Linked DNA regions of Homo sapiens. The protein of the gene in region 5 purifies or fractionates together with the protein of the main gene of each other region. This does not show direct contact. Each region holds a gene or a part of one and is shown on either strand. Other genes may lie near its edges. The genes, in order: SERPINB7, LCP1, ALDH1A3, SULT2B1, GUCY1A1 and PLA2G4D.

Evidence for each region.
Region 1: the proteins of GUCY1A1 (region 5) and SERPINB7 purify together in Homo sapiens (affinity purification with mass spectrometry; one large-scale study listed by BioGRID and IntAct). This does not show direct contact.
Region 2: the proteins of GUCY1A1 (region 5) and LCP1 purify together in Homo sapiens (affinity purification with mass spectrometry; one large-scale study listed by BioGRID and IntAct). This does not show direct contact.
Region 3: the proteins of GUCY1A1 (region 5) and ALDH1A3 purify together in Homo sapiens (affinity purification with mass spectrometry; one large-scale study listed by BioGRID and IntAct). This does not show direct contact.
Region 4: the proteins of GUCY1A1 (region 5) and SULT2B1 purify together in Homo sapiens (affinity purification with mass spectrometry; one large-scale study listed by BioGRID and IntAct). This does not show direct contact.
Region 6: the proteins of GUCY1A1 (region 5) and PLA2G4D purify together in Homo sapiens (affinity purification with mass spectrometry; one large-scale study listed by BioGRID and IntAct). This does not show direct contact.

The regions. Positions count from the first base shown.
Region 1 is NC_000018.10:63,773,949-63,778,237, forward strand, and holds the start of SERPINB7 (serpin B7), read left to right. Parts: upstream 1-1,469; 5' UTR 1,470-1,768; intron 1,769-3,832; exon of another isoform or gene 3,833-3,877; intron 3,878-4,289. UniProt on the Homo sapiens protein: Might function as an inhibitor of Lys-specific proteases. Might influence the maturation of megakaryocytes via its action as a serpin.
Region 2 is NC_000013.11:46,154,673-46,158,280, forward strand, and holds part of LCP1 (plastin-2), read right to left. Parts: intron 1,899-3,608; coding exon 1,766-1,898; intron 215-1,765; coding exon 133-214; intron 1-132.
Region 3 is NC_000015.10:100,903,793-100,907,400, reverse strand, and holds part of ALDH1A3 (retinaldehyde dehydrogenase 3), read right to left. Parts: intron 1,879-3,608; coding exon 1,714-1,878; intron 281-1,713; coding exon 123-280; intron 1-122. UniProt on the Homo sapiens protein: Catalyzes the NAD-dependent oxidation of aldehyde substrates, such as all-trans-retinal and all-trans-13,14-dihydroretinal, to their corresponding carboxylic acids, all-trans-retinoate and all-trans-13,14-dihydroretinoate, respectively.
Region 4 is NC_000019.10:48,586,625-48,590,232, forward strand, and holds part of SULT2B1 (sulfotransferase 2B1), read left to right. Parts: intron 1-604; coding exon 605-813; intron 814-3,608. UniProt on the Homo sapiens protein: Sulfotransferase that utilizes 3'-phospho-5'-adenylyl sulfate (PAPS) as sulfonate donor to catalyze the sulfate conjugation. Responsible for the sulfation of cholesterol.
Region 5 is NC_000004.12:155,715,255-155,718,862, forward strand, and holds part of GUCY1A1 (guanylate cyclase soluble subunit alpha-1), read left to right. Parts: intron 1-1,904; coding exon 1,905-2,048; intron 2,049-3,608.
Region 6 is NC_000015.10:42,070,459-42,074,066, forward strand, and holds part of PLA2G4D (cytosolic phospholipase A2 delta), read right to left. Parts: intron 1,935-3,608; coding exon 1,817-1,934; intron 1,454-1,816; coding exon 1,316-1,453; intron 1,094-1,315; coding exon 986-1,093; intron 860-985; coding exon 665-859; intron 426-664; coding exon 259-425; intron 1-258. UniProt on the Homo sapiens protein: Calcium-dependent phospholipase A2 that selectively hydrolyzes glycerophospholipids in the sn-2 position. Has a preference for linoleic acid at the sn-2 position.

The DNA.
Region 1 (4,289 bases), on a different chromosome or scaffold from region 5:
TACCTATTGACCATTTCACCACTTGAAAGTACTTTATATCCTCAGTAGGTAAGAAATAGAAAGGATATGGGATTCAAAATATTCAGCCTATGAACACTGCAATTAGAATATGGAGAACAGGGAATCCATTTGTAGGCTCATTTTTTTTTTATATTAACAACAACCTTCTCCTTCAGAAAGTTCACCACAACTGCTAAATCAAAATTAAATTTCAGGGATTTTCTGCAACTTTACTTTTCTCTATGATTATTCTACTCATAAACAATCATGGAGGTGAGCAATAACTACTTTATTCGATTTTGGATAAGTTAACAGGACCCCCTTCTTCCTGGGAAAGAGGCAAAATTGCACAAAATTGAGAGGCGAGCAACTGTAAGATGATGGTACCTTCTAATTCCAATAGCTTTTTACAATAGAGAACCCAGTTACTTGGATAAATGTTGGCTGTACTTTTGAAAACACTCAGGCAGAAGGACCAGGCTTGCAGTCATTTCCATGCATAGCAGGTGAAGGTAGGTGCAACATACAGCTCAACCTCATGATGCTACGGCCAGAAACTGAAATGTGTTTTTGCCCCTGTGTGGCATGTTCTGATGGCAAAGGTGTAGGCAACCAACTGGGCCCAACCTACCTTTCCCTACACCTGGTCACTTTTCAAAGTGCAAACCCACTTTAACAAACTCTAGCCTGTATTATAGGAGGAAGGATCTGGGTGGTGCAGACGTGGCTTTCCATTGCCAGATCAGAAGGGTGGAGGAGAGGCTGGCAGGATGACAAGAATGAATGAACACACCAAGTTTCAGCTCCTATCTGAAGCTGCTCAGTTCAGGTAAGCATTTAGAGAAGCCAGTTGCAATAACTAACAGGGCAAATGTTTCTCTGGAAAATTCCAAGCCAGAGAAAATTGAGAAAAAGAGGGAAGGATGGAAAGCAGTACAAAGAGAAGCCAGCTCAAAAGGTTAGAGGTCCAGATGAAAATCTGAGATTGGAGAATGATAAAAAACATTGTGTGAGATTCTATTTTAGGTCATTATGCTAGGGAAATTTACACAGGATAGGGTTGAAAGAAATTAGGCTATAAGATGAGTGGCAAGTTGCAATAAAATGGCACCCTAAACTCACCAAGTCACTGTTGTCACTGCTATCTTGCCTTAGTTGATTTGATGTCTAGTTAGTCTATTTGTGTGTTTCTCACAGAAGAGTATGTTTTGACCCAGGCTGACAGATACTGTTGATTCTGAAATTTGTTTTTATGGTTATGTTAAAACCATTGTCATTATAAGAAACAGAGATGGGAATATTGCCTCCTGAAATCTGATTCACATACAAACTGAATGAACTACATAACAACCACCTTAGTCAGATACTATTTTGAAACCTGGTTCAAAACCTAAATGCTTATAAGATTCTTGAGAGACAGTGCTGTGCTCTGAGTCATAGGGAAGCCATCCCAGAAGCCAGGTCTACTCATCAATAAGCAGCTGCCTGTGCAGAGTGCAGGCTGCACCTTTGGACAGCCTTTAAAACTGAATTCTCAGAATTTTAGAACAAATTTTTGTCTAGAAATGCTGACTTTGGTTCATTAGGTAGTGGTAAAACAGGCTCCCTTCGAAGCTCTCCTTCATCACCTTCCTAAGTGCATGGGGGAAAATACCTAGGGCTCAACAGTCTTGAGAAGTGTGGAAACATTTTCTTTGTGAGTGAGAACAGATCACCTAGAGAAAGGAGACCAGATTCCCATCACTGCTTCTGGGTATCAGATGCTAGCGTGAGTACACTGTTGATTTGCTTATCCAATTATTGATTTACATTATTGCTCTTATCTTCTGTTGTAGGCAAGAGGTAAGTTCACTAACGAATCTCAAGGAAGATGTAAATGGCCAATGATCATGCTCAGAGGCCTGAAATCTCTCCAGGTCGCCTCCTTGGAGGGATGCTTTTCTGGTGGGGCAGCTTTTATCACCATACACAAATGTGCTTGGGTTTGGATTCTGCTGGAGAGAACACTGTGACCCGTGGTCTCTTCCTTGGGCCATGTCAGTCAGTCTTGGACTTATTTTGCATCCTATTCTTTACCTCACTGATGCCTGTGTATCCTTGGCTTGGTGTCCCAGCCCATTGTCCATCAAAACCTGCTATCAGGAATAGATCAATTATCAGTTATACACAATGCGCCATGACCCTATCCCAGAGGCATTAGGTCATTTGGCTTCATGTTTTTTTTGTTGTTGCTGTTGAGTTTTAAAATAATGAAATATAATGTAGCTACATAAAGATGAATTCAATAGATGCATACAATTTAATAATAGAACATCACCAGAACCTCTAAAACCTCCCTCCCCATTCTTTCACCAACAAAACCTCCCCACCCACTAGGGGTAACTAAAGCAGTTATATCCGTGGCTTAGTCTATCCACCCATGTAAGCATCCATTAAAAAACAGTTTTGTCTGGTTTGATCTTTTCATGAAGGGCATCTTACTGTGTGTATTCTTTCGTGCCTGATTTATTTGCCTTCTAAACCTTACTTCTATCAGTGGCGTGGGAGCTGATGGCTACTGCTGTGGTGATTTCAGACAGTCTTGAGAAGATGAGGGTAGAGTTTTGTGGTCAGAAACCTTCTTGTGTGCCTTAAGATAGTGCGAATTGAAAGACCATGTCCTGGTATGAAGCATAGTTTTTGGGTATACTAGATAAACCAAGGTCTGTGAGAAGCTCTGGTAGACAAAGGGAAGAAGTGGGTCCCAATGGACGTCTAACAAGGACTGGGGGGTTTAAATCATTAAGACTATGATAATTTTATCCACAGTTGATCTATAAAGTGTACTATGATATACTTTTCACAATGTAAGCTTTCTCTGGAGTTAATAATTATCAAATTTGCTCATTTTTTGGATATTTATTTGGTTTCTAAGTTCCTATCACTAATGTATTTCTTTTCTGATGGGGGTAGATATCCCTCTCCATGTGTTCAATATATTCTAACGCATCTCTCTCTCTGATAGCATATTCACCTTAGAGAGCTTCAAACAGTCAGCATACTCAATTTTAGCATTAATCATACAACGAAAATAAAGGCAGTATGGGCAAACACTTGTGGGAAATAATGTGTAAGATAAAGTCAGAAACACTATGTGAGGTACAACCCTACTTCTCTTGAGAGGGACAGCTCACCTGCCTCCCTTAAATACAATGTTCCCCAAATACAGCATAAATACCATGTTAGTGATTATACACATACATAGCAACACACACATATATATATGTGTGTGTGTACTAATGAAAATGTAATTGGTGTGAATTTTTATTTTATGGATGAGAAAAGGCCCACTCTATTCTATAGCACTTTGCTTTCTTCACCTCTCTGGGACTGCAGTGCTACTCCTCTATGACAGTTGAATTTATAGATGTCAGAATATGAATTATTCCAGGTGGGGCTCGGTCATATTCATCAAATACCAAAATCAGAGCAGGGAGGAATCAAATAAACAATAACAAAAATCAGTAACTACATTTCCACATGTAAGAAGTGCCAGTTGTGCCTTAATGTAAGGATATCTAAATTTACTACATAAAAATACTATGTGATACTAAATATCAAATGAAATAACATTTCATGCTAAAATTTGATTCATTAAAAATATCTATTTGACTACTTTGAATTAGAGCTATAGCTAATATTCTACAGACTTCTTTTAAATTGCTCTATAAAGCATCTGAATATATTTATTTTAATGACATTATTTAAAACTATCATGGCCATCATAAAAAAAAAAGTAGGGAGTGTCTGAGTCAGAGGCTTTATATTTCAGAGTAATGCAAAGAACTCTTTCAGACTCACCCAACCAGCGGCCAACTTCCTCTATGAAGACAGTAAGGTAAATACTTCTGAAGTCCATAATTTAAAGTCTGGCCAGATCCTTTGAAAAAAGACACACACACACACACACACACACACACACACACACACACACACACAGACACAGAGAGAGAGAGAGAAATAAATCTTGGTTACTTTGTGTCTGAGACATTAAACTCATCACACAACATCCAGATCGGATAATGGTCCTCTTGTCTGCTTCTCCACCTTACAGCTTGTCTATGACTGATTTAAGTGGTGTCATGGGAGAATGGCATGGGAATCGGATGCCAGCTGAAAAATTTGTGTTCCATCTTTGAAGAGATAAGTAGGGATTATGTGCAAATCTAGATTCTATATTTCCTGTGTTCTTATTTAAGGCATTATAGGTTGGAATATACTAGATTTTGAGATTAGAATTGAACTCTTTT
Region 2 (3,608 bases), on a different chromosome or scaffold from region 5:
ATGACAAGTCACCAGCCCAAAGCCTGGGTTTTGCGAATGATGTCTGAGCCCCTGAAAAAGGCGGACTCAGCAGTTATGATGCTCATTGATGCCAAACAAATCCTGTATTATGGTAACGGTGGGAAGACATACCTGAATGGTGAAAGGGGTTAGCTTCTTTTTGTTGATTGTTCTTTCATCAATTGTGTCTGGCACTGACAGGTTGATCATTTTACTGAAAGAGAAACAATTAAATTAAAGAAAGCAGTCTTCTGAATAACAGAGCCCAGTAACGTTGAATTTAAATTCTAGCAATACCATAATCAAAGAAGATAGCAACAGAATCTGTGATGTTTAGATATAAAATCAGTTATGCCGTTTGACTAGACTCAAACTATCTGCGGGAAAGGTGAATACTACTGAAGCCACATTCATATATTGAGGTTGGAAATGAGGACCCCACTTCATTCTCCCACCTAAACAGCTGCAAAATTATCCTGATTTTCTTAGCACATTAGGAAATTCTGGGTGGATAACCAAAGTAATTCTACCATAAGTACTTTATTTTCTTAGCCATGAAAATTGTCCCCATTATATAAAAGACTGTCTACAAAATTCTGAGCTTATTATTGTCTACATTTCTATTTGACACAGGACCAAACTTTGTATCTTCAGCTAATCATATGATAACATTTTTATATCCTTCTCAGTGCCCTAGGCTGAGTACCAATGAGTCACAGGGGTCTTAGAAGGTAAAACTAGCAGATTGGGGGAAGACCATGGGGTGCCTTGGGTGGCAACCTAAAAGCTAGAATTTTGATTTTTTTATAGCAATTGAACCTTTTAAAAATGAATTCTCAGGACAAACTAATAAATAAAATATCAAAAGTAGAATTGCTCTGGTCAGAGCAGAGGAGAAAGCTCAATGTCTTTCCCACCCATTGTTATCCTTTAAGTCCTGAGTCCCTCACATATTGAGCACCTCAAGTCACTTCACTTACAACTTGGCCTGTGATGACAGAGAACCTGCTGAAGCAAGAGCTACAGAGGTATTTTCAAAGACACCACGTTGCATTGAGCAGCACCATATTTAGAGGCCTCCCGTGGGTAGGATGCAGTCCCCCTTTTCCAGGTGTCCTCAATGTTTGAGTTGTGGATTTCTGTGCATCACTCAAAGGTTTCTTTGCTTAAGGACTACAGTTTAAGGACTTCTTCCATCATCCTGCTGCTATTATCAATTCTATCTGCTTTCATGGTGAGCCACGCTCAGATGAAGCCAAGCAGCATATATTCCAAAAATATATAACCAGGAAAATTGTCCTCATTATAGAAGAGACTATCTATGTACTTCTGAGCTTACATAATGTCTACATTTCCGCTTGATGCCTGATCCAACTTTATACTTTAAACTTGTCATCAGATAAACTTTTTAATGTCCTTCTATAGTCATTATTTAATCAGTATTTTATAAGTTTCCCCCACTTAATTATCTAATACATTGATTAGACATCTAATGCTTTTGACTTGGTATAACTATATCTTCCATGTTTATCTCTATAATGTTTATCCCTCCTCTCCACTCAAGCAATAGCAATTTTACATTTCTCATTATAAATTGTTTTTGAATTTAGTTTGCTGTCCTGGACCTGGCCAAGTGAAAGTCCAGAAAAGCCTTCTAGGTGCAGCTGAGCACCAAACAAAGTTGGCCTACGATAAATAACGATTAATTGTTGATGGTCTAGAAAATGGGCAATTCTTTGGAAACCAAGAAAGAAGTATTATTTACCAAAGGACAATGCCATCTCCAACAGCATTAAAGAGATCATTCGTGTTTGGGTTCATTGGGATGACATGCCGACAATCAGGATCATTTTCCAGGGCTTTGTTTATCCAGTTGACAAAGGCATACTTTTCTTCCTCTGCAAGTAAATGATTAAAGTGACTCATTTGCAAAGTGAAACTCTATTATAAACAAAATTATGCATGTGGATCTTAAATTCTCATTCCCAGCAGAGAGATGTGAGTTTATTCAGTCCATTATCTTATCATCTCATATTTATTAAGATTTAAAAATCTCAGATCACTTGGGAAATAGGCATTGAGTCTGTGTACTCCAAGTCATAAAACATAGAGCAAACAGATTTAAAAACTATCTCTCTGTTTCTTTTCTTTTCTTTTTTTTTTTTTTGAGATGGAGTCTCACAGTGTCACCCAGGCTGGAGTGCAGTGGCGCGATCTCGGCTCACTGCAAGCTCTGCCTCCTGGTTCACGCCATTCTCCTGCCTCAGCCTCCCCCGTAGCTGGGACTACAGGCGCCCGCCACAACACCCAGCTAATTTTTTGTATTTTTAGTAGAGACGGGGTTTCATCGTGTTAGCCAGGATGGTCTCGATTTCCTGACCTCGTGATCTGCCCACCTCAGCCTCCCAAAGTGCTGGGATTGCAGGTGTGAGCCACCGCGCCCGGCCAAAACTATCTCTCTGTTCCTATATATACGCATAATCCAGATATATATTTACATTTAGAAGCAAATATATACATATGTTTATTTTCTATATATAAATACATAAATAATAAAAATATTTTATTTATATGTGCATGTATACATATATATATACACATATAAATACAAATGTGGTATAATGCTTACAGGACAAAACTCAGGATTCCGCTTTTAGCTCTGCTGGTTTAAATGTTGGATCACTGTGGACAATCCTTATTGTACCTCTGAGTTTCTTGATACAATTATAATTAAATTGCTATAAAATAAAATCATTTGGATATAATCTTTTTTTCCTAACAGTAAAGCTGCCAGAAGGTGATTTTTAGATGTTTTAATAAAAACTCAAGTTATGTCTTCACAGCCTAGCACTATGTTTCCCAAACTGACAGTTTTTGAAAACAGTAGTGTCCCTCAGAGAAATCCTGAGTCATAAAAGTTTGGGAAATACTGTGTAGTGAATGTATCTCCGCCTTAAAGATTCACATTGCACATTTGACCCAGCAAAGGTTCTGAAAATTCCTGTATTTAAAAACAAAAGGCCAAACGTTGTCTTAGCAACTATAGATGGTATTTAATCATGACTTATCTTTTTTTTTTTTTTTTTTTTTTTTGAGACAGAGTCTTGTTCTGTCGCCAGGCTGGAGTGCAATGGTGCAATCTCGGCTCACTGCAACCTCTGCCTCCTGGGCTCAAGCGATTCTCCTGTCTCAGCTTCCCGAGTCGATGAGATTACAGGCATGCGCCACTGCACCCAGTAGAACGGGGTTTCACCATGTTGCCCAGGCTAGTCTTTAACTCCTGACCTCAGGTGATCCACCCGCCTTGGCCTCCCAAAGTGCTGGGATTACACGCGTGAGCCACTGTGCCCGGCCTCATGAGTTTATCTTTAAGATCAACTAACGTTTTGAATAATTCAGTTTTGGAAATGTTGCAACAACTATACTGTTTGGCCTGTTGGAAGTTTCCATTATGGCTGTTGGATGGCAGCCTTCGGAATAAATTTACAAATTTATTCCAAATCAATGAAAACATAATTTTTTGATCACTTAGCAGGTGTTAAAAATTATCATGAAGTTTAAAGATAGAAGCTTGAGTAGCTAATTTTGTCCATAAGATTTAGAAAGGA
Region 3 (3,608 bases), on a different chromosome or scaffold from region 5:
TGAGACAGGGCTTGGTATATAATATACAATGTAAACAATGAGAAACTCTCAGTTAATAGAAGAATAATGAACTTAGCAAGAAGCAACTCAGGAGAGCTGAAATACACACACAGTCAACTCACCAGACCGTTCCAGACTCTAAGGCAGAAGCCAACTTCAGGGCTTTGTCGAGATTTTTTGTGAACACGGCTGCTGTGAGTCCATAGTCGGTGCTATTCGCTCTTTTTATCACTTCTTCGATACTTTTGAACTTCAGTATTGGTTGCACTGGCCCGAAAATCTATGATTAATTGCAAGAATGGCAATGAGAGGCATGACTGAATGGAAATGCATGCTGTGAACAAGCATTTCCTTCTCTTTACATGTTTTTCATATGCCCAGAGCACACACATGCCTGAAAAACGATGATTAGAGAAGAAAGAACGTCCAAACATTGCTTCAGCTGCATTGCCATTGGAGACTGAAGGGAAGGATTAACATGAAACAAAAATAAAAAATAATAACAAAAAATATATGTTGTGTTTAAGATGTCTTGTTGTCATCAGGGTTTCCGAGAAACCCAGCCAGAGAGCCTTGGAGTAACCCATAGATGCACAGAACACAAAACCTTTAGGTAACTTTTTTCGGAGTTGTCCTGAAGGATATCTGCAGGCACTTTGTAAGACTGTGCTCCTACCTCTTGGAGCTGTGTTTTCTACCAAGGAAGACACCCTAGAACGTTTCCATAATAACTACCAGGGGAAGGAATGACACAATATTCACCACAGTTTGTGACACAGCAAAGAAAAGGAAATGGAAGAACTAAGGCTTGAACATTTAAAGGTGATTTTGAAGGGAGCTTGTAATTGATTCAATATTAGACATAATTATAAGCCGGCAGGATGGTGCCTGGCCTGCCAAAATACCTTCCGGGTTCCCCAGGACCTCTCGTCACAGGGATGTTTAAGGAGCTGAGCTTCATGCCATCACGGCACATAACAATCTCAAGGAAGACGCCTCTGAAATACCTGCCCCAGAAAGCCCTTGGCAGGGACTCATCCTTTTATGTGCCCCAAAATACCACCTCCAGGGTCTAACCTCCTGGGATCCAGCTCTCCTCTTACAAATGCTGTGTGGGAACCAGTTCCCGTCTAGTGTAACAGTGGAGTTGAAAGAGAAAGATTTACACTCTTATGGGAGTGGGGGAGTCTCCTTAATTTCCCTCATTTTCAAGACGTCCGTGGTGGAAAATGTCAATAAAAATTCCAGCTGTGACATGTTCCTTGAGTGAACACTTGAAATTCAGTCTAGGGGCACTGAAGGCGGCTTTGGGCCCTGAATCCACAGGTTCTTGAACTGATTCCTGGCAAAACCCACAGGTGGCAACAGTTCTCCACCTGCGGCTGCATGACTGACTCGGGGACCGGTTGTGTTAGAAAATCAGAGAGGGCTTGCTGCTCCCAGAGAGGGTGAGCCATGAGTGAAAACTAGCTAGAACAAACAAGGTACCTGCTGTATCATGCTTGGAGTTCGCCAGAGGCAGGACAAAACGGCTTCCCTAGGGACCCCAAAGGAGAGGGGAAAGACCACACAGAAAAAACAACAACGACAACAACAGCAACAAAAACAAAAAAACACTCAGATCACAAGGATTTCTGGGATCCCTGGGCCCTAGGGAAGGACTCGTGTTTGAAAGGCCCCGCAAGTCGTAGCCTTGCCACAGCCCCCTTGTACCTCCTCTTTGGCAATCCGCATGTTGTCTGTGACTTCTGAGAAGACAGTGGGTTTGATGAAGAGCCCCTTGTCTTCCATGGCTGAGCCCCCGCATTCCAGCTTGGCCCCTTCCTTCTTCCCACTCTCGATCAGCTCTAAGATTTTGTCGAACTGCTTTTGATCAATCTGCAAGACACAAACAAGAAGTACAGCCTGGCTTCCTTCTGGGCAGTGGCTGCCATCTCATGTTTTCAGTGGCCTTCAACATGATCAGCCATCCTCCCTCTGCATGTTCTTGTCAAGCCATGATCCATGTAACTAATGAGCCTTGCAGGCAAATATTCCTCTGATGCACAGAGCTGGGCTCTTTGGAGCAGGGGAGAGATGGGGAGATAGACTAGTCTCATCCTCTGGAGGTTTGGGACATATTTACACTTCTATCTCCCTTTTCCATGCAGCAAAGTTAGTCCATGAGTGACACAGGTCTGAAGTGGTCACAGTCTTTCTTCTCCCAACTCTTTACATTCTACTCAGGTTGCCAAATTTAGCAAATAAAAATACGGGATGCCCAGTGAATCTGAATTTCAGAAAAATGACACATAATTTTTTTTAGTATGTCCCAAAACAATATTTGGGATATACTTAAGCTAAAAGTGCATTTACTGTTTATCTGAAATTCATGTTTACCTGGGTGCCATGTATCACCTGGCAACCCTGTGCCCTGCTCAGTTGGCACCGTGAATCAGGGTAATAGTTACTGGAATTCTCCTGTCATGGTGCAGAGAAGCGAGAAGAAAAGCTAACCACCTTACTCAACACCCCTGGGGACAAAGCAGAATGAGCCTCCAGGTGGGGTGGCAGGGCTGCTCCTTGGTTGGTGGTGGGAACAGCTCATGAGAAAGACTCTCCCTTTTGCTATCTTGTCTAGACGTCTCCTTGGCTGGAGTTTGCCCTGTGCCACCAGCCTGACCCACAGCTTGTGAACACGCTACTGAGCAGTTGTCAAAAGCGCACCCTTTTGGGAGACTGCTCAAGAGGGAAAATGCTCTTTCTGCCCCCTCCACTGGTCCTTCTTCCTGAAATCTATGGGAATCTTGTCCTTTATCATGATCTGTGGCTGGTCTCCCTCCTCTTTGGCTGGGAGAGACAAAGCTTTACTAGGTTTACTTTAGCTGGGATTTTTAGATGGGAAAACTGGTTTCATTCCAATGATCATAAACAGAAAAAGAAGCAAACCCAGTGGTGCAATTGGATGACGGTCTGTCCTGGAGGAGCAGGAGAGAGGGCATAAACCGTGCATGCCACTTGACCAATCATCTCATGAAATATGGACCCAGTTTAAAAATACTAACTCAGATCCATACCTCACACTTTATACCAGGCCAAACTCCAAACCCAGTTTAAAAATACTGACTCAGATCCATACCTCACACCTTATACCAGGCCAAACTCCAAACCCAGTTTAAAAATACTAACTCAGATCCATACCTCACACCTTATACCAGGCCAAACTCCAAACCCAGTTTAAAAATACTAACTCAGATCCATACCTCACACTTTATACCAGGCCAAACTCCAAATAGATCAAAGATATAACCAGGAAAAACAAAACCATAAAAGTTTTATATGTGGGAGACTTATCCTGCAAACTTGGAGTGCCTTCTAATGACTCAAAATGCAGAAGCCAAAAAAGAAAAGATGTATAATTTTGAGTATGTAAAAAAAATGGGGTGGGGGCAAAATTATCATAACAAAGAGCAAAACAACAAACTTGGAAAAAATATTAACAAGTCATATTCATAGAAAGCTAATCTCTCTACTATGTATGTAAAGAGGTCTTAGAAGTGATAAGAAAAATGCCTAACAGCTTGCAAGAAAAATACGCAAAGCACATTTGATAATAAAGGAAATACAAA
Region 4 (3,608 bases), on a different chromosome or scaffold from region 5:
AAAATGAAATGGGGTTGGGTGGACAGCTCACCAGTCTCTGCCCTGCACCACTTTCCTAGCTTTGTCCCCTTGGACGAGCGACATGGTTTCTGTAAGGCTCAGTTTCTGGCTCCGAAAATGAGGTTAAGCAACCTTGCCTTCTCTGCCAGCTGTAAGGAATCAGTGTGATAAAATAGGTGGTAAATTGCTCAATAAATGCTGTCAGGCAGGGCGTGGTGGCTCACAGCTGTAATCCCAGCAGTTTGGGAGGCCGAGGTGGGCAGAGCACCTGAGGTCAGGAGTTCGAGACCAGCCTGGCCAACATGGGGAGACCTCGTCTCTACTAAAAATACAAAATTAGCCAGGCGTGGTGGTGGGCGCTTGTAATGCTAGCTACTCGGCTGAGGCTGAGGCAGGAGAATTGCTTGAGCCTGGGAGGTGGAGGTTGCAGTGAGCCGAGATCGCGCCATTGCACTCCAGCGTGGGCAACAGAGTAAGACTCTGTCTTAAAAAAAAATAATAAAAGGTGGCAAATTGCTCAATAAGTGCTGTTGTGATTATTCTGATGATATCTCCCTCTTCAGCCCTCCCACACCCAATTAATCTGCTCGATTTCTCCCAACAGGCACGACCTGGATGATCGAGATCATCTGCTTAATCCTGAAGGAAGGGGATCCATCCTGGATCCGCTCCGTGCCCATCTGGGAGCGGGCACCCTGGTGTGAGACCATTGTGGGTGCCTTCAGCCTCCCGGACCAGTACAGCCCCCGCCTCATGAGCTCCCATCTTCCCATCCAGATCTTCACCAAGGCCTTCTTCAGCTCCAAGGCCAAGGTTGGGAGGAGGGGTGTGTGTCAGTTGGGAGGGGCTGCATGGGTGTATGGGGTAATGGGGGGACGGAGCATAACTCATTGATTCATTCAGCACCTATTTGTTAAACACCTACTATGTGCCTGACTCTGATCTAGCACAGTGGTCAATATACACACAGAAATGCCTGCCCTTTGGCAGGGAGTGATGGCTCATGCCTGTAGTCCCAGCACTTTGGGAGGCTGAGGCGGGAGGATCACTTTGGGCCAGGAGTTTGAGACCAGCTTGGGCAACATAGTCAGACCACATCATTACAAGAAATTTTAAAAATCAGTCAGACGTGGTGGCACACACTTGTAGTCCCAGCTACTTGGAATGCTGAGGTGGGAGGATCACTTGAGCCCAGCAGGTCAAGGCTGCACTGAGCTGAAATCACCTTACTGCACTCCATCCTAGGCAACAGGGCAAGACTGTCTCAAAAAAAAAAAAAAAAAAAAAAAAAAAAAAAAAGCCGGTGCTGGCATGGTGGCTCACGCCTGTAATCCCAGCACTTTGGGAGGCAGAGGCAGGCAGATCACTTGAGGCCAGGAGTTCAATACCAGCTTGGCCAACATGGTGAAACCATGTCTCTACTAAAAATACAAAAATTAGTCGGATCTGGTGGTGGGTGCCTGTAATCCCAGCTACTCAGGAGGCTAAGGCAGGAGAATTGCTGGAACCTGGGAGGTGGAGGTTGCAGTGAGCTGAGATGGCACCACTGCACTCCAGCCTGGGAGACAGACCAAGATTTCATCTCAAAAAAAAAAAAAAAAATTACAGCCAGGCGCAGTGGCTCACGTTTGTACTCCCAGCACTTTGGGAAGCCAAGGTGGGCAGATCACCTGAGGTCAGGAGTTTGAGACCATCCTGACCAACATGGAGAAAACCTGTCTCTACTAAAAATACAAAGTTAGCTGGGCGTGGTGGCACATGCCTGTAATCCCAGCTACTTGGGAGGCTGAGGCAGGAGAATCGCTTGAACCCAGGAGGCGGAGGTTGTGGTGAGCCGAGATCGCGCCATTGCACTCCAGCCTGGGCAACAAAAGCAAAACTCCGTCTCAAAAAAAAAACCCCCATATATTATACTACATATTATAATAATTTAATAGTATTACAATATACTTTAATTATATTTAATATTTATATGTTTAACATATAATAACATAATGCAATATAATATAATACATAAAATGTCTGATGGGATAAATTTACATTGGGGGGAGAGGGCTGGAGATAGAGTTAGAGGTGGGTGTGGGGCTGCAATTATAAATAAGGAGGTCAAGGGGGCCCCCAGTGAGTAAAAACCCGGGAGGTGATGGTGGGAGCCACAGAGGTTTCTAGAGGAAGAGCATTTCAGGCAAGAGGGAAAAGCAGGTGCAAAGGCCCTGAGGTGGGTGTATCTGAGGTGCAAGAGGGAGGTCGGTGTGGCCGGAGCCAAGTGAGCAAGTGGGGAAAGGAGTGGAGATGAGGTCCGGGTGGGGAGGCAACAGGGGCCAAAATGTGCAGGGCCGCGTGGGCCCGGTGCGGACTTGAGCTCTGACCGAGTGACGAGGCAGCGCGGCAGGGATCGCAGCAGAGGAGGAGCCCGAGCGGGCTTAGGCTTCACCGGCGCCCTCTGGCGGTCAGATGGGGACCGACTGTCGAGAGAGCAGAAGCCGGGAAGCCCGAGAGGCGGCGCTGGCCGGGGTCCAGGGGAGGGGACGGTGGCTGGACTAGGGTGATGGTCACGGAGGTATTTTGAAGGTGAGACCGGGAGGATTTGCTGACAGACTGGATGTGGGTGTGAGAGAAGGGGATGAGTCAAGGGTGACTCCAAGGTTTCGGCGGAAGCAACTGTCAGGGTGGGGCAACTGGGAAGGGGAGGAGGGAGGGGAGCAGGCGGGGGAGGAAGACACGGGCTCTGCGGCGGCCCATCCCACGTCCAGCAGAGGCTGCCGGTGGGCACAGAAATGCACCCATCGGGATCTGAGGGGAGAGACTTGGGCTGACACGTCCATTTGCAATTCCTTGGCACATATATTCTGTAATTAATCGAAGCTCCAGGACTGGGTGATATCGCCAAGGAATTGAGCGTGGACAGAGCAGAGAGGGGGGGCTGCAATCAGGAAGTCCCCAAGACCACCCTCAGGCTCAACGACTTAGCAAAACTCATAGTGTTCAGCAAAGCTGCTGGACTCCCGGGTTATAGTCAATTACAATGAAAGCAAACGTGAAAATCAGGCAAGGGGGCCGGGCGCGGTGGCTCACGCCTGAAATCCCAGCACTTTCAGAGGCCAAGGTGAGCAGTTGATTGAGCCCAGGAGTTCAAGACCAGCTGGGCAACTTAGAAACACCCATCTCTACAAAAAAGTTTAAAAATTCGTCACGTGTAGTGGCATACACCTGTAGTCCCAGCTACTTGGGAGGCTGAGGTAGGAAGATCACTTGAGCCTGGGAGTTTCAGGCTGCAGTGAGCCATGATTGTGCCACAGGCACTCCAGCCTCAAGGACAGAACAAGACCTTGTTTCTTTTCTTTTTTCTTTTTCTTTCTTTTTTCTTTTTTTGAGACAGAGTTTCCCTCTTGTTGCCCAGGCTGGAGTGCAATGGCACGATCTTGGCTCACTGCAACCTCTGCCCCTCTGCCTCCAGGGTTCAAGCGATTCTCTTGCCTCAGCCTCCCAAATAGCTGGGATTACAGGCGCCCACCACCATGCCCAGCTAATTTTTTGTATTTTCAGTAGAGACGGGGTTTCACCATGTTGACCAGGCTGGTCTCGAACACCTGACCTCAGGTGATCCA
Region 5 (3,608 bases):
ATGTATAATCGTAGCCTACCCTATGAGTGCCAATGGCTTTGAAAGAATAGTCAGCGTTATTTATTCCAAGACTGGATTATACTAGGGCTTTATTTAATTTTATTTTCTCTCTGTCTTTCTTGGGTTTTTGGCCATTTTTCTGTTTCTCTGTGTGTTCATTTACCCATTGTTTCAGCGAATATGTACTGGTTATCCAGCATTTGCCAGCATGGGTGCGCAGTGGCTACAGAGCTAGAGGGTACAATCCCTGTGAGGAAAGTTCACATATGGAGAGGGAGAAGAGGGCACAATGGACCAATGCCAGATTTCCATATGACGTGACGAAGGGATGCAGTATGCACAAAGGGCTGCAAAAGCAGATATGGTAGGCCCCTAACATCAGGTAGGGGTGGGTGTAGGACTTCTTCTAATTAGCCTATTTATTGAGCACCTGTGATGGCCATCATGATGAGCACTTCTTATGTACTCATTGCTGAGAAAAAGCTTATGGGTGGCATTGCCACCTGGTTCATTCATTACTGGGCACAGGTAATGTAGGAGTCAATAAACTAGATAAACTCAAAGGGCTTACATATGATTAGGGGAAACAAAGACAATAAACAAATGAGTAAATTTATAGTATTTAAGTCAGTATAATAATGTGAAAGAAAAATAAAGTAGGTTAAGGGGAAGAAGAAGGGCAGTGGGTAAGGGGTGATTGCTATTTCTTAGAGGGTGGTAGGAATCAGCTTTTCTAATAAGGTGAGGTTTTAGCAGGGACTGAAGGAAAGGAGGGACAACCACGTGGTTATCTGCAGAGAGATTGCTCCAGGAGAAAGGAATAGCAAGTGGGAGCATGTTTGATGTGCTTAAAGGATAATGGAAGGCAGTGACATTGGAACTAAGTGAGCAATATGGAGAATAAGAAGATAAAGTCAGAGATTAGGAGAAAGACAGGTAAAGAAGAAATCTGGAGCCATAATAAGGGTATCAGCATCTACTCTGAGGGGAATTTCTGAAGATTTGTGCCTCCTTTCTTTTTTCCTTTCTCACCCTCATCCTTTCACAATTGAGGCTTTGTGTAAGAATAATAGGGTCTTATAGTTACAATAAACATTTGGAGAAGAAGAAAAATGAAGCTCTTAGAATTAGGGGGTTATTTCTGGACTAAAATTAACTATCTGCTTTTTGCAGCCAGCATCACAGACAGATAAAAATTGCCTGTAACGACAACAATAATGATGATGATAATGATAAGGTTAATACTTAGATTTTTGATAATAGCTTGATTTCCAGTGGTCTTTCAAACACCACCGTTGTTTTTACCTGCTGGTTCAACATCTTGGTTTTTATAATTGTGATTAGTATCCATTAGATATGTAATTGCTATGAGGACCCCAAGGGTCCTTTAGAAGAACCGTTTCTCTTTACTCTTATGACTATTAATATCTTGGTTTTACATTGCACAATTTTACTGCATTGATGTGACATTTATTGAGTAGTGACTTGAGGCAAAATACTATTTTATGATGAGGAGGATATAAAACGAGTAAATGATCCCAACATCTTTAAACAATTTATTATAATTCAAAAATATATTGTTTCTACAAAAACTATCTTATATGGTGAAAAAAAAGAGATGAAATGATATGATGAGTCAGTGTGCAAATCTGGGAGTAGAAGTCAACTGTTACTGTGTTCATAGGACTGTACTGCCTCTCAGTGCAGTGCCTCAATGTAATGGGTCTAAACCTTGCGCATTTCCTGAAAAAGAAAGCCATTTCTGGGCGTATCTGATTAACCCTGATCCTCCAGAAGGCCTGAGCAATGAGAATTCTGCTATATGACTTAATTTCTTCTATCCGATGTAGGCTGTGATTCTTCCTGAGCATTTATTTATAGTATGGAAAATATATTATGTCTAGGTGGAGACCATTGGCGATGCCTATTGTGTAGCTGGGGGATTACACAAAGAGAGTGATACTCATGCTGTTCAGATAGCGCTGATGGCCCTGAAGATGATGGAGCTCTCTGATGAAGTTATGTCTCCCCATGGAGAACCTATCAAGGTAAGGCAGATGATATATTGTCCAAAAGATGTCACAAGAGCAAATGCGTATAGTTGATTACCAAAACCATGGTGTATCAGTTGGGGGTTAGTTGAGAGAGAGAGAGAAAGCAAAATCTATATAGAGAACACAATCTTCTCTAACTTGTTTACATTGGAAGAAATTTATTATAGGGTATTAAATGGCTTACAGAATCATTGAGAGGACAGAAGAACCCATCTATAAGTTGGGCTTTCAAAAAATGTTTCCCATAGTATAGGGATTTTCTATTGTCAAAGTAAAATGGCTTCTAAAGGCAAACTTCAGAACAACTGCATTTTCAAAAATCTGGAAGCTGATTCCAAAACTATCCTACCAAAGCCACAGTCAGGAAACTGCCATGTTCAGAAAGCTGCTGCCTCTTCAAAACCACATCTACTATAATAATCAGCAAGATGGCAATCCTGCATCATGACTTACAAAATGAGTGATGGGAAAATGGACTCTCTACTAAGCATGCTATAGAAAACACAAAGGCTTCCACAATTGTTCTTGAGTTATAGTGGAGATTGTGCCTGCCGAATCTCATGCAACTGTGCATCTGATTTACCAAGCCTAACTGCATTTAGAAGCTGCAAGTTAGTTTAGAAAATGTAGTTTTAGTTTTCCAGCCCCTGGAGGAGAGGATATTACATTTGAATGGATGTTGACTGTTAATTCACCAATATTTTCCAAGGCACGTGACATTTCAAAATTTCTAGATGAGCCAGATTCCAGACTAATATCTCACCACACATGAGGAAATAAAGTTAACATGGTAGGCATTGGTTTAACAGATAGAATATAAGCAGATTACCTTTGTCTCACAGTGAATCTGCCCCTTAATTTTTATAGGACAGTCCTCAGTTGACTACCTTCAGAAATAAGCCTTTGAGGTATTGTAAAATCTTATCCGGTATGCTATAAAACATATAGAGAAGAAAGAAGAAATTTAAAAACAAAACTATATTTGGAGATTTACCCTTAACTCTCTTTAACCTTAATAGAAGCCATATGTTTAAGCCTTCGTAACTATTTTCTAAGTCTATTGTCATCCCATTTATATGTTTCTGTGCAACATACTTTTCTAAATTTAATGGTATAAAATCACAAACTTTTATTATGCGTGGATTCTGTGCATCAAAAATTTGGATAAGTCATAGCAGGAATACCTCGTCTGTGCTCTACAATCTATGGGACCTCAGCTGGGAATACCGAAATGGGTGAGGGTGCCTGGAATAGCTGGGATTGCAACGATTGAAGCTGGAGGATTCATTCCAAGACTGCTGCTTCACTTACATGTCAGATTCCTTGGTGGGGATGGCTGAAAGGTTGGGTTCAGCTGGGATTGTTAGCGTTACATGTGATGCCCTAATATGTATTTTTTATGAGGTGGTTCATGTCCCACTGAACAAGACTGGTGGAAGCTGCATGACTTAGTCTTGGAAGACACACCGCAACACTTCCACTGCACTCTATCAGCCAGAGCAATCACAAGTCTGCCCAGAAGAGAGAGGGCTCAGAGCCCAAGAATCAATAGGA
Region 6 (3,608 bases), on a different chromosome or scaffold from region 5:
CTCAGCTCCGTCCAGCTGTTCTTTGGAGTAGGTGTGGGGAGGTCCCTCCCTGTTCACCTGTCCTGGGAGCCCAAGGCCCCTGCACCACCCCAGCCTTCCCACCTAAGGACCCTGGCAGGAGCCAGCAGATCAAGGCCTGACACCTCTCCTTCCCTTCGGGACCCCGGCGGTGTGGGGCAGGGGCTCAGTGGCCCTGCTGCTCGCCTCTGGAGCTTGGCCTGGCTGGGCAGAGGGGTTCCCCTGGGGTGACCAGGGTACCTCGAAGGGCGCAGATAGGGAGTAGTCGAAGGAGAGGATGAGGTCCAGCCTGCGGCCTGGCCGGAACATGGAGGGAGAGCTGGTGTTGATGAAGTAGGCGGCGTCCACCAGGCAGAGCCGGGGCTCCTTGGGGGTCAGCTGGCTGGGCATGGAGTCAAGCTGGTAGTCTGGTGGGAATCGCAGGATGGTCAGAGGCCACCACCCTGCCACAGGTCATCCATGTCCCCTTCTCTCCTCTGGGTCACTCCTTAAATGCCACCCAGCCCTTCCCCAGGACCTTCCAAGGGGATCGTCTCCAGGCCACACCCCAGAAGTGGATGCTGACCTCCTAGGCCTCAGCCAGTCCCTGCCACACCACCCAGAGGCCCAACCTTGTGACCTAGGGACCCCTGGCCACGGCCCTGACCTGCCCAGGTGGAGAAGTCTTTGTGGCTACAGTAGTCCTGGTGCAGCTGGAGGCCCTGGAGGAAGTTGGGGCTGCGCTGGTGGAGGGGCCTGCCTGTCAGGAAGCCTTTAAATGCCTGGGCCAGCGCCGTGCCTGGCTGCAGCCACGAGGCCTCCAGCCGCGAGGAGGTCCCCGAGGTGGTCAGGGGCTCCTTCTCTGAAGCCAGAGAAACAGAAATTGGTCCCTTCTTCCCCTTACTTCTTCCCCTCAGACACCGCACACCGCAAGCATTCTAAAGGAACAGCGTCATCCCAGGCCCCTCAGTGCCCCTGCCCTTCCCACCTAAGCTCCTGGTCTTGTCCTTGATGTGCTGTTTCCAGGACTCCCCAGAACTGGTGAGGTCATACCAGGCATCCAGCAGGTTCAGGGAGAAAATGTTGCTCCAGATGGCTGAGGAACACCAAAAGAGATCAGCCTCAGGCCCCAGCCAGCGGCCCCACCCTCAGGTACTGATGGAAAATGGGAGTGGGGCGAGGGCTACCCCTACAATGCATCCCCCCCGCCACCCCTCCCCCTTGTCCTGAGGTTCTGCCCCACCTGAGCTACAGGACCCATGTCCATTCAGACACCTGGCCCAGGGCTGCCCAGGGCCTTCAGAGCCACCACCCTCACCTTCCAGAAAGCAGATCCGGGGCTCCGGGATCCTCCTCATCAGCCGTCCCATGAAGAACTCGGAGCCGAAGAGCTCAGGAGGGACGAAGGCCCCGTACTTCAGGAAACCGACCTCATAGGGGGAGAACTCAACCCACTCTAATGGGGTGGGAAGGAGAGGCAGGAGTGTGAGGGGAGTGGATTGCGGGAGTCCCCAGCTCTGGCGAAAGACACTGCCCCTGCCCCCAGCAGGCCTGAGCCCTGCTGTGCCTGGCACCAATGCAGCAGATGTGAGGAATGGGCAGTCCTGGACTGACCACACCCCTCCCAGCCCTTGGTCCACACCCTCAAGCACTACCCACTCTCAAGCACAGAGAGATGCCCTGAGCCCCTCAGCACCACTGCCCTTCCGGAACATTGGGCAATCTGTGCGGAGCTTCCAGCATGAATTCTCTGGGGGCTGTCGGGGTGCAGAGGGTTTGGGGGGTGGAGTATGTGGGAGGGGAGTAGGTAGAACTGTACCCTTGAAGTCCAGTGTCTCCAGATTGTTCTCTTTGACATTGAGGCTCAAGTAGAGGGGCAGAGGGTTCTGACCCCGTTCCAGGGCGGCTCTCTGTCCTGACAGCTTCTGATCCATCACCTGGGGCCAGAGGGCATCAGGGCCTAAGTGAGGCTGGGAGTACCCTGGAGGCAGTGGCTCCGCCAGGACAGGGGCAGGATGGGGGACCTGGCTGGGGGTGAGGAGGCAGCTCCTCCCGTGGGGTCTGGGGACCATATGTGGGTCAGTTCCCACTCCTGCCCCTGTGTTCTGAACAGCCCTAGATGCAGGGTCGCTGGACAGGGCATGCAGGCTGTGTACTATGAATCTCCAGCGAGGGCCATTCATAGGGACCACAATGCCAGCGGTGCTTCCAGGCCCATCTTCGTGGATTTAAGGGTGAAGTGGGTGTGGATACTGACACACAGACACAAGGACACATGCACACATCCACGTATTGCTTTGTAGAAAGGATGCAGCAATGCCCTTTTAGCATATACTGCAACCTATGCCAGGGGATGGACTGCCCCCTCTTCTAGGTTCACCTTAATGCAGTTCAAGTTTCAGCTCCTCCCGAATGCTTTCCTGACATCCTTGCCTCCCCCTCATCGTCCCTCTTCTTTCTTGCTTTGCATAACATGAGGTTGTACCCCATTGATTATTCTTGCCTTCTGTTCTTAATTTCCTCCTCAATAGAGCTCCAAGCTCTGCCTTTGTTTTATTTTATTTTGAGACAGGGTCTCACTCTGTCACCCAGGCTGGAGTGCAGTGGTGCAATCTTGGATCACTGCAACCTCCACCTCCCAGGCCCAAGTGATCCTCCCACCTCAGCCTCCCGAGTAGAGTAGCTGGGACTACAAGTTACACTTGGCTAATTTTTGCATGTTTTGTAGAGATGGAGTTACATCATGTTGCCCAGGCTGGTCTCAAATTCCTGAGCTCAAGCAATCCACCTGCCTTGGCGTCCCAAAGTGCTGGGATTACAGGCGTGAGGCACCATGCCTGGCCCAAGCTCTTTGATGGCAACGACTATAGCTTGCCTTTTGGGGGAGCCTCCACAGAGCCTCCCTGAATTGTAAGGGAACAGAAAGGCCTCATTCTATGCTGAGCTAGAATTGCAAATAGAGCTCTTCCCAAGCACCAGCAAGGCGAATGGTGGTGCCTGCCTGGAGCACCACCTTGGGAAGGATTCTGCCGCCAGAGCTGAGGTTGATGCTGTCAGCCCTGGGCTGTTTCTACTGGGCAGTATGTGTACCATGAATACGTCATCCTTCCTTTGGGCTCTCCAAGATGGAAGAGTGTCTAGTTCTAGAGGCTCCCAACCTGCCGCAGCAGCCCTTATCATCAGAGTGACTCAGTGAATGTGTACACGTGAGAGCATGTGAAGCATGCGGACTTCTGGGTCTCCCCTGAGAATCAGCCTGTCAGAAGTCACTTTGGAGTTTGCCTTTTAAAAACCCTCAGATGATCCTGATGCCCAGCCAGGTGTGAGGATTCCTACCCAGCCTACCCAAGGAGGGTCCCTCTCCCACATCCATGGCGAAACTCAACACACCCAGTGTGTGTGTCCTCCTTGCTGGCAGCTCTTCTGTCCCTGACGAGAACACTCATGTGTCAACCACAGTCATCCTTCCACCCCATTTTCCAATGGTCCCCAGTATGAATTACAGGGAATTTGCAGGAAATCTCTAAATAGGGCTCGATCCCCTGCCACTGATGGTGGTGGTGTACGTACGAGTCAGTCCTTAGGTACAAATGTGTGTACGTGACCCCTTC